Linked DNA regions of Homo sapiens: region 1 is linked to region 2. A link means that fine-mapping ties the variant in region 2 to the expression of a gene that starts in the linked region. Tissue or cell type: lymphoblastoid cells. Region 2 holds a variant in brackets; the other region holds the start of a gene. All regions are shown on one strand. Distances are from middle to middle. Region 1 holds the start of RASGEF1B (RasGEF domain family member 1B). Region 2 has its middle 51 kb from the start of RASGEF1B.

Evidence for each region. PIP is the estimated chance that this variant, and not a neighbour inherited with it, causes the effect. A credible set is the group of variants that fine-mapping cannot tell apart.
Region 1: it holds the start of RASGEF1B, and the variant in region 2 is the best candidate, but not a certain one, in a credible set for the expression of RASGEF1B in lymphoblastoid cells (TwinsUK, PIP 0.84).

Annotation. Positions count from the first base shown.
Region 1 is chr4:81,469,017-81,474,515 of GRCh38, forward strand. RASGEF1B (RasGEF domain family member 1B) reads right to left here and starts at 2,891. Exons shown (of 14, transcript NM_152545.3): 1 at 2,754-2,891. RefSeq lists a silencer at 2,823-3,232.
Region 2 is chr4:81,519,993-81,525,213 of GRCh38, forward strand. No RefSeq gene overlaps it. Among named protein-coding and RNA genes, the nearest start is that of RASGEF1B, 51 kb to the left of the region's middle. The variant A/AACAC (reference allele first, on the strand shown) is at 2,650.

The sequences.
Region 1 (5,499 bases), 51 kb before region 2:
GATAAGCAAAGGTTGCATGGATCTTTTTTGTAGTTTTAACTGGAGAATCAAAAAGGACAACTATAGGTCTGAAAAAGTGAGGGGGGTGGGCTGGCAATACCTGAATTCAACTACTACTAATAAAAATCCCATAAATCTTAAACAGCATTTTTAACAGTGCAATTGGCCTCTTTAAGAAGTCACAAAATGTTTTCACAGCTTTTTCATTTATTATGTGTGGCATCAGAATCAAGTTTCCCAATCCCTGCTTCAAGGATTCTAGATTCTTCTCCCAAGCAAAGAAAAAGACATTCCATTCACCCATCTCCTTTCCAAGGAGGTGCTCTCCTGGGGCTATCCCAATGTTCCTCCCAAGTCCAATTCTTCCAGGTACTCTGCGGATATTGACAAAGCTGATCCCAACACTCCTGAGTCATACTAGGGATCCCAGCTCCTCCCCTTCAATTTTCTTACCATGTCTTTTTCCTTAGAAAGGTGTATTGAATTGTTTTTATATAGTCTATTGTACTCTATTAACTAGTAGTTAATTTTAGGTTCTAAGAATAAAATGTTATATAAGAACTATGTGTTATTATAATACTTTGATTTAGTTATACATATAAATACATATGTATATATGTACATATATGTGTATATATACACACACACACACACACATATAAATAATCTATTAGATGCTAAGCTGTAGGGGGTTAGCGGGAGACAATACATGGGAATGCTTTCTGGTGATTCTCTTCTCCAAAAGACAGTATGATTCCCAGGTATTAGATGTGTTAGTATCAGATAAAATATCCAGTGGAGCACATAAAATGAAGCAAGACTGAAAATGCACCATAGGAGAAATAAATTCTAAGAATGTAACACTTCGTTAGACAACTGGAAAGTACAAGGCCAATATGCTTAGTAGTTAGAAATGTTGCCCACCTCCAAGAAAACAAAGGATTGACCCGACATGCAGTGGAAGAATGCCAACAAGAAACTTGTTAATCAGTGGCTGATCTCATCTTCACCAGAAAATCTGCTTGAGAGGCATAATATAACGCTGTTTGTAAACCCTGATATCTGTCAAAAGTGCCCTAAGGTCCTCCTCTCTAGCTCCACCACTGCCCCTCACTTAAAAAAATAAAATTACCTTTAATGATAGGGTTTAACAAGCTGCCTTCTTTTTTTCTGTTATGAAAACCTCAACAGCAAATAATTTTTATTTCTTTTTATTAAAGAAAGCAACTCTATATTTGTTCTAAATCTCATGGGACCAGTTATTTTCACCCAAACGGCCAACCAGGTATATACGCTGCTTAACTGTAAACCTCCTTGTTTCTTAGCAGAGGCTTATCGCCATGGTCCAACTATGTTTTAAATTAAGGCATAGCCATCACATGCCAAGCTCTAGCTACTGTTTTCACGAGGAAAGGGCAATTATTCACCCCATCTGAGTGTGACTGTGCCAGACATCATTCAAGAGTGCACCACCCTGATCCCTAGACTCTTCCCCTTTATGCACCCAGTTCAGAGACCCTCCCTTCGGCCATTAGACCATCTGAGCTAAATATAGATCTACACACACCAGCAGTTCCTGACCGTCGTCACATGGTGCTGACGAAGGACTCCTTGGAGACGCGTTCGGCCCAAACACATACACAAATTTGTGTGCATATTCATCTATATACACCATATCCACCGAATTCATCAGGGAGGATGGACACATCTACATTCCGAAGAGAAAATCGCCGTCTAGACAATCTCCTTGTGTTATCTGCCACACTTGTGCCACCCTCGGCAGTGTCAGAGGATTAAGCTACGTTGCTTTTGCCTGAACTGCGCCGATTTGGTTGGGGCAAGACAGCAAGCAGTATTGAAATGGTACGTCCATACACACACACAAAGGCGCGCGCACCCCAGCCCCCGTCTCGCCCTTTTCCCTGGTGCAGCACTTAAGTTGTTTTCACAGCTCCCTTAGAAAGAACCTCCCTTAAGCTGACTGCCCGCGAGGCTCCTAGATACCTCTAGCTCATCTGAGATTCCCCAGGCAGGTGACCCGAGGCGACTCAACTGAGCTCTGGCAAAAGCAAGGCGACTCAGTGTCTCCCAAGTTTGCCAGGTGAACACCGAAGGATGACAGCACATCACCTTGTCGGTGGCGAGTATGTGACTTCTGTTCCCTTGTCCCTTCCTACGAGTCAGACTTTAGATTACATGGCACTGACAACAAAAATAAACAGCTCCCCCTACACACACACGCACACAAAACTGGTCAAGAAGTGGAAGAATCAACCTAGGTATGCACACGAAGGAAAGAAGGGATGAAAAAAATGATGGACGCGATTACAACTCAAGACAAATCCTCAAAAACCACCTATCTCGAGACAGAAGGCCTGGCTGCAGGATCAGGGAGAAAGAGGGAAGGCACAACCCAACCCAACCCAAGCCTGGCCCTGCCCGGGTCCCAGCGGCTCGGCCTCGCACCTGTTGGGGCCGCGGCAGTCCCAGGTACCCGCAGCGGCCGGGCAGGGGCCCTCCCCCGGTCCCGGGCTGTAACTCGGCTCTTGGCGCCCGCGTTCGCGCTCACTCGCCTCGGGATCTCCCGCCGCCTCGGAGCGCACCCGGCAGCCGGTGAAGTCTCTGAGCCCCGCTCGCTCCCCGCGCGGCCCAGGGATCTCCAGGGAGAGCGCAGCGCGCAGTAGGGTCCGGAGTTCCCGCTCCGGGCTGTGGTCCCCCAGCCGGGAGAACAACCCAGCCAGGGAACAACCTACCTGCAGGTGAACTCCGAGTCCTCGGCCTCCCGGCTGCGTGCCGCGCGCCCACAAATGCGACCAAAGGACAGGGAGCTAAAGCGCGCGGGAAGAAGAAAAACAAAATCTGTCTAACCAGTCGGGTTCCTTGTTTATACTGAAACTACGGCAGCCGCCGCCGCGCACGCCCCCCTTGGCTCAGGCGCCTGCCTCCCGCTGCCAGCCCCGCCCCGCCCCGGCAGGCGCGGGCCAATCACCGCGCAGCTCACCGCCCACGCCGCCGCCACCCGGCCCGGCAGGCAAGTCCCAGTGGGCCCCAGACTCCCGCAGCGCGTCAGCCTGGGTGCCCTCCCACGCGGCAGAGGCCCGCGGAGCCCAGCGCAGCGGTGTTTAACAGCGTTGGTCAGGCTGGCTCCGACTGTGCGCGTTTCCTCTTGAGTGCACCTGCCCCGGGCTGTTGTGCAGTCGTGAGTGTGTGTGTGTTCATTCACGTGTATACTATCTGTAAATACCGGCCCGACTCGTTACACAGTATTTATTAACATAATTGTGAGCTAAAGGTTACTGTCCATGTAACTTTCAGAAGAGAGCGGAGAGGAACCACAGAACATTTGCTTAGCAAATAACACATAGATCCTGGTGCTAAGCACTGTGCAAAACGCTGGGGGCACACTTGGCAAAGTAGGCTGGTCTCTGCCATTGTGAAACTTACATAGTCTAGTGGAGGACAGACATTCAGCAAATAATCACCCAAACAAAATGTAGAATTACAGCTGCTAGAAGTTGCACGGAGAGGAACCTGTTCCGTGAAACATGATTCCGGAGGCAAAGCAGGGAGGCTAGTCCTCAGTGAGGGCTGTGTTGTCATGGTAACCACGTACTCACTCCATCATGGGATATTTGATAACTATTTCAGAAAAAAGGTAAAAACCTCCGTACTTCACTTTGTACACATAAAAGGAGGCCAGAGGGAAATAATGATGGAAACAAGGGAAGAAAGAGACCTATGAAAAGAAAAAATTTACAGAATTAGGAGACTCTTACCAACTGTATTTCCTTGAGTAAGTGATACAGCTTTTCTGAGCTTCAGTTTTCTCATATATAAAACAACACTATTCATACCTGTCCTATACTGTTATAATTAAGATTACTGAGGGGGAGGAATCCTTTTCCCTCCTGCTCCATGGGTCCCTCCCCCTCTCCTTCCTGGGGTGGAGTCATTTTGACGCTCACTTTGTCTATTCTTAGCGGATTCCTCTTTCATTTTCTTCATTTATGCCTCCTTTTACTTTTCTTCCTCTTTATGATACTCCTTCCCTCCTTTGTGTAAATAGGACTCCTCTGATTCAGTAATTCACTCTAACCTACTTGAGCCTTTGACTTAACCATAGCTTCTCTGCAGTTTAAATGAGAAGCCATAAGGCCAAGGGAACTTGGTGGGCCAGCCATGCAGAGTGAAACACAGAGGCTGGGTGGCCCTGCCCTGCTGTTGTGGTTGTACTGGTTGGTTGATTTTTCAAGCTCAGTTTTTGCATCCCGATTCTGTAACAAACGAGCCATATGACATTGGGCCAGTCACTTACACCCTTGACATTACTGATCCTGTAGCCAGAAATTAAGAGTTGCAGGGGATTGCTGGCAAGATGGCTGAATAGGAACAGCTCCAGTCTGCAGCTCGTAGCGAGATTCACACAGAAAGCATGTGACTTCTGCATTTCCAACTGAGGTACCCAGTTCATCTCACTGGGACTGGTTGGACAGTGGGTGCAGCCCACGGGGAGTGAGCTGAAGCACGGTGGGGCATCGCCTCACCCGAGAAGTGCAAGGGGTTGGGGAATTTTCTCCTCTACCCAAGGGAAACCATGAGGGACTGAGCCTGAGGAACTCCAGCACAGATACTGTGCTTGTGCCAGTTTTCGCAACCCACAAACCAGGAGATTCCTTCCAGTGCCTACCCCACCAGGGCCCTGGGTTTCAAGCACAAAACTGGGTGGCCATTTGGGCAGACACCGAACTAGCTACAGGAGTTCTTTTTTTTTCCATACCCCAGTGGCGCCTGGAACACCAGCGAGACAGAACCGTTCACTCTCCTAGAAAGGGTTGCTGAAGCCAGGGAGCCAAGTGGTCTGGCTCAGCCGGTCCCACCCCAATGGAGCCCAGCAAACTAAGATCCACTGGCTTGAAATTCTCACTGCCAGCACAGCAGCAGTCTGAGATCAACCCAGGACACTCGAGCTTGGTGGGAGGAGGGGCATCCACCATTGTTGAGGCTTGAGTAGGCAGTTTTACACTCACAGTGTAAACAAAGCCTCTGGGAAGTTGGAACCGGGCAGAGCCTACTGCAGCTCAGCAAGCCTGCTGTGGCCAGACTGCCAAATTTCCCTTCTCTGGGCAGGGCATCTCTGAAAAAAGGCAGCAGCCCCAGTCAGGGACTTATAGATAAAACGCCCGCCTCCCTGGAACAGAGCACCTGGGGAAAGGGGCGGTTGTGGGCGCAGCTTCAGTAGTCTTAAACGTCTGCCTGACAGCTCTGAAGAGAACAGCAGATCTCCCAGCACAGCGTTCAAGCTCTGCTAAGGGTCAGACTGCCTCCTCAAGAGGGTCCCTGACCCTCGTGTATCCTGACTGGGGGACACCTCCCAGTAGGGGCTGACAGACACCTCCTACAGGAGAGCTCTGGCTGGCATCTGGCAGGTGCCCCTCTGGGACAAAGCTTCCAGAGGAAAGATCAGTCTTTGCTGTTCTGCAGCCTCCACTGTGATATCCA
Region 2 (5,221 bases):
TAACGCTGGTGAATTCCACCTACATGCGGTCTCAACATACAGCTGTGATTTAGCTACCAGTGCATTTCTGAAAATTGCTTCCTTAGCATTTCAGCGTGTTATTTGAAAGAGCAACTGAAGTAGAAAGAAAATCAAGCAACAACAGGAGGGACTCGTTTTTAAACTCATTACTTTGCAAGCTGAAAAATTTGCTTAGATCAGTTGGGGTTTCAAATGTAAAAATTGACTTCTGATACAAAAGCCAGTAGCTACAGTTTGAAAGTCTGAAGCACATTTTCCCCACTCACTTCCTTATTTTTCCAACAAGAGTTTCATATGCCTTTTTAATAGGTGAGATGTGCAACCCATGGAATGCAGAGTATTCCTGTTTATATCATTATTAAAATGTAAACAGAAATACACTTTATGGAAAAACTGGGGCTAATCATGATTTTTATGCCCCTCCCCCATTTCTAATTTTTAAATAAAATTGGTATATGGGAAACATTATTCTGACTGAGTTCTTGTTGAATATTTGTTGAAAATTTCTACAATTTTAAATGCATTTACAATTCTGAAACACCAATTTAACTTGAGAGGCTAAGTAACAAGAAGATATCAAGTTAAAATATCATTTTGATACCCGAGCTTTGTGGCTATTTCAATATGTAAGTGAGCCTTCATGATGGTTCTTAAAAGTAAGTTATTATCATAATATATGCTTTATCTAGTAAATTCTTCTCTCCGGACTTAGTTTTTTTTAATGTACTTAAAAAATAGCATCTTTTGGGTTATGAAAGCCCTTAAACAATGATTTTCAAGGACTTCTGTCATTGCTTAATAATATTCAAAACCTATAGACAAACTTCGGAATTACATGTTAAAAATTGTACAGGTTGAGTATCGCTTATCTGAAATGTTTCAGAAAAGAAACATTTCAGATTTTTGAATTTTTTCAGGTTTTGGAATATTTGCATATACATAATGAGATATCTCAAGGATGGGACCCAATTCTATGATAAACACAAAATTTATTGATGTCTTATATACGCCACATACACGTAGTCTGAAGGTAATTTTACACAACATTTTAAAACAATTTTGTGTATGAAACAGTTTTGACGTAGTTTGCACTGGGACTCATCATATGAGATCAGGCATAGAATTTTCCACTTGTAGCATTATGTTGGCACTCAAAAAGTTCTGGATTTTGGAGCATTTTGGATTTGAATTTTCAGATTAGGATGTTCAACCTGTATATGCAACCTGTATTTAATCACAACTATGCTTTTTTAAAAAAGCAGCAAACCCATTGCAAAGAAAGATGAAAGGAAATTCACCAAACTCTTAATAATAGTTATATATGATAGACAGGAATAAAACAAAGGTTTTAAAGCAATGCAAATCTCTATTAAGAAATTCCTGATCCATTTTTTATACCTCTTTCAGAATATGGTGTCAGAGGTTGTAAGGAAGAGCAGGTTGTAAGGAAGGGCAGGTTGTAATCCTGGCTCCATCACTTACTGTGTGACCTGAACAAGTACAAAAGTCTCCTTGTGCCCTGGTTCAATTATCTGTAGAAATGAGATAATAATAATACTTACTTTGCAGAGTTGTTGTGAGATTAAATGAGCTAATGCACGCAAATTACTTAGAACAGTGGCAGGAACTCACTTGAAATAAGTGAGAGCTATTATTTTGTTATTTGTAATGAATCTGCTTACAATTCCAACTCTACCAGTGGAATGTGACCTCTTGAGGGTAGTGATCACCTGTTTATTTATCTTCTGTAGCCCTGGACCCTAAGACCATGTCTAGCAAATAAGAAATGCTCAGTAAAGAGTTGTGACTACATTAATGAATGAATTCCCCATGGCAAAGTGATAGAGAGTTTCACTGACTATTTCATCAGTAATGATCTAATGGTGGCTGCCTGCCACTAGTCTCTGACCCTTCTTTCTCTTAGCATTCACGATACTTAGCTTCTGCTCTGAAAGTGTTCCAAGCCTATCTGCACTGATCCAGGCCACTAGCAAATGGTTCAACTGATGAGAACACATCTATAGACCAACAAAGAGCACTTAAGAGGAAGAGTGTTACTCTAAAATATATCAATCTATAGTGTTAGAAACTTTAATCACCTTCCAGATTCTCGTATGGATCATAAACACTAAATCACATCAGTTCAATAGAGTCAAAAGGCACTTCATCCATGTGTAAAAATCAAGGTTTATAAGGCAGTCAGTATTTTTCTTTGGTACCACTCTCACCTTCAGCAGCTGCAGCCCAAAGCTATTGGGCAAAACTGAACTCGCCTCAAAAAATCTTCTGGGAAGACTAGGAGTCTACACAAATGACTGGACTACACCTTCGTAGAGAACAAGTTTGCTCTTCTGAATTTTCTTCAAACTTCATTTTTCCTTGATTTTTAAAACAGATAGCATTTTGTAAAACTGTAATATGCTGAAGACCTATTCAGAATTTCTTGTGATGAAACAAAAATTGTCATATTAAGTTAATGTTCAATTAATATAGGGTAATAGCTAATATTTGTCTCCCCTTACAAGGTTAGTCAATAATAGAAAACAATCTCCTCAGTTTCCTCTGTGCATGTTTCCACTCCAGTTCTTCCTCTCCTGCTTATGCAGAGGCTGTTCTTAAAAAATACTA[A/AACAC]ACACACACACACACACACACACACACACACACACACATGCCACACCTATATCTTTAGTAGTTTGAGTAAAGAAGATGTGTATTATCATATCCCTTTTCTAAGATCAGGCACCCAAAAGGAGTTAATAAATCACCTTGGAAAAGTACCTTAAAAATCTTCAAAGGGCTGTACCCTAGCATCCCTAACTGCCCTTTATTAACCCACTATGGGTTATTACTTCATTAAATGAAACTACTAAAATACCCAGGGGATGAGGTGGAAGAAACGGGTAGGATGGAATTAGTAAGTACTGAGTAAATGTGGTGTAATGGAGGGAGTTCAGTACAGGAGAAAAGGGTGAGTGACTAGCTCACACTGACTAGTATTTATATAATGTCCAATAATTTACAAGGTGCTCTTACATAAGGGAGGAGAACCAAAAGACACAGTGGAGGAGATGGTAGTCAGTCAATTAGACTAGGTACGGAGGCTTCACTAACACATATTTTCTTTAGACCTTAAAATTACCTTACTTTAAGTTCCATGGAGATAATGGAATCCATGATGACTACAGGGATACGTACATATGCTTTTAATTATTTTGAAATGTTAAATAGGTGGGTCAAAATCTGGCCTAAAGTTTTGCAAGCTTTGACACTGTAACTCCTGTTACTCGAATGGACAAAAAAGTTCATTCTGATAATTTTACCTTTTTTTTTTTTTTTTTTTTTTTTTTAACAGATGGAGATAGGGTCTCACTCTGTCATCCAGGCTGGAGTACTGTGAAATAACCACAGCTCATTACAGCCTCAAACTCCTGGACTCAAGTGATCATCCCACCTCAGCCTCCCAAGGAGCTGGGACCACAGGGGCAAACACCAGGTTCTGCTCTGATAATTCTAAACCTTGATACATAAAGTAGAGTCAGGAGATGGGTTTCTAAGAGCTTTCATTCATCTGATTTCCCAGCACCACGAACATGGCAAATTCAGATTATCGCAGCAGAACTGTAGCACAAGGGCAAGAATGACCAAAGGCCCTTCAAAGCCTGGGGTTGACCAAGAAGAAATTCCTATTTCTGAGCAGTTATTCTGAGGCAGGCTCTGATTCAGTCAACTGGATGAAGAAGTGAGCAGTATTTCCACCCAGAAGACCCAGGCAGCCTTTAACTTCATGACAGCTTGTCTTTCAAACCGCAAACCAGAACATGGCCAAAATCCCATAAGGTGCAGTCCCCCTGCTCTGAGGTATAGCATTATTCTCTACGAAACTTTAGAAGAAGGAAAGTGTGAAAGTCTGAGAGTCTAGCCTACCCCCATCCCAGGAGGCCATTATGGGCCATTTTACTGCAGTTTCTCTTTGTTTTGTTTTTTCCATTTAGCTACAGCATGTAGAGAGAAACCCTATTCAAGAGAGTGGGGTCATTATCCACACACAAAAGGCCATTTAGAGAAAGAACAGTGCAGTCAGTTCAAGCTATGGTTGCCAGAGTCCAGACCTATTGGACAAAAAGGTTAGCTGTTTAAGTGGGAATGTGAAACAAAATGTAGTAATTAGGTCTAACTAGGCACCCTCCCCTCTGCTGAGAAAGCTGCCTGGGATCATAAACTCATTCCCTGAAAGTTCTAAGCTTAGGAGAAAGCAAGTCATCAACACTAAGTGACAGTTCAGTTGTTAACCTTTACCCTAGAGGCTAGGTTTTTTTTCTTTCTTTTTTTTTCTTTTTGGTATGTTTTTTATAGATGTCACTTTTATAAGCTTGAGCTGTTCTTTTTCTAGTTACCACTATTGACAGTTTCAGATCACTGTTGTGTGTGATTGTGTGTTAAAAAAAAAAACACATGAAAAAATATAAATGCTACAATTAACAGTGGTTACCTTTAGTGATGAAATATACGAAATAATTGGGAATTAATTTTTCTCCCTTCAACCTTGTACTTCCTAATTGCTCTTTTATTAACACATAATGTAAATGAGAGGAAAAAAGACACATATATCTCAGGCAAAATTTTCTACCATGTTTCACTTAAATGAGGAAAAAACAATTAGAGTTTTGACAAGAATAATCATGCACAGAAAGGAGGTATAAGCCTCTGAGAAGAGGCAGTGTCATGAAGGTATGAGAACTGATATGAATGTTAACCAGCCTTCACCCTCTTTTCTTCAGCCATTTAGTGGCATCTGCATAAAAGTAATTTCAGACTAACAGATATTTCATAGTTGTCACTAAGACAGCAAGTTCTCAGCATTTAGTATGCTCAGAGGTGTGGTGTTCTGGTTAATAAAGCAATGCTAGGATGAGCACATGCTAGTTATTTAATAGACATTTCCTGTTGGATTGATTGGTTGGAATATTATGGTTGCAAGAGAGTAACCATGTATACAGGGCATGGATAACCAATATTCAATAAATAAAATGTGACCTAAAATGCTTTTGAAAATTTCATGTGTAATAATTCAGAAGGTTCTTTCAGTTTTGCAGAGCCTTGACTAATCATGTTGCATATCAATGATAAAAATAACAGAGAATGGCCAAAGTACAAATTCATAAGGAGTTCCCTTTGCTAGATTACATGACAAATCTGCTTTTTA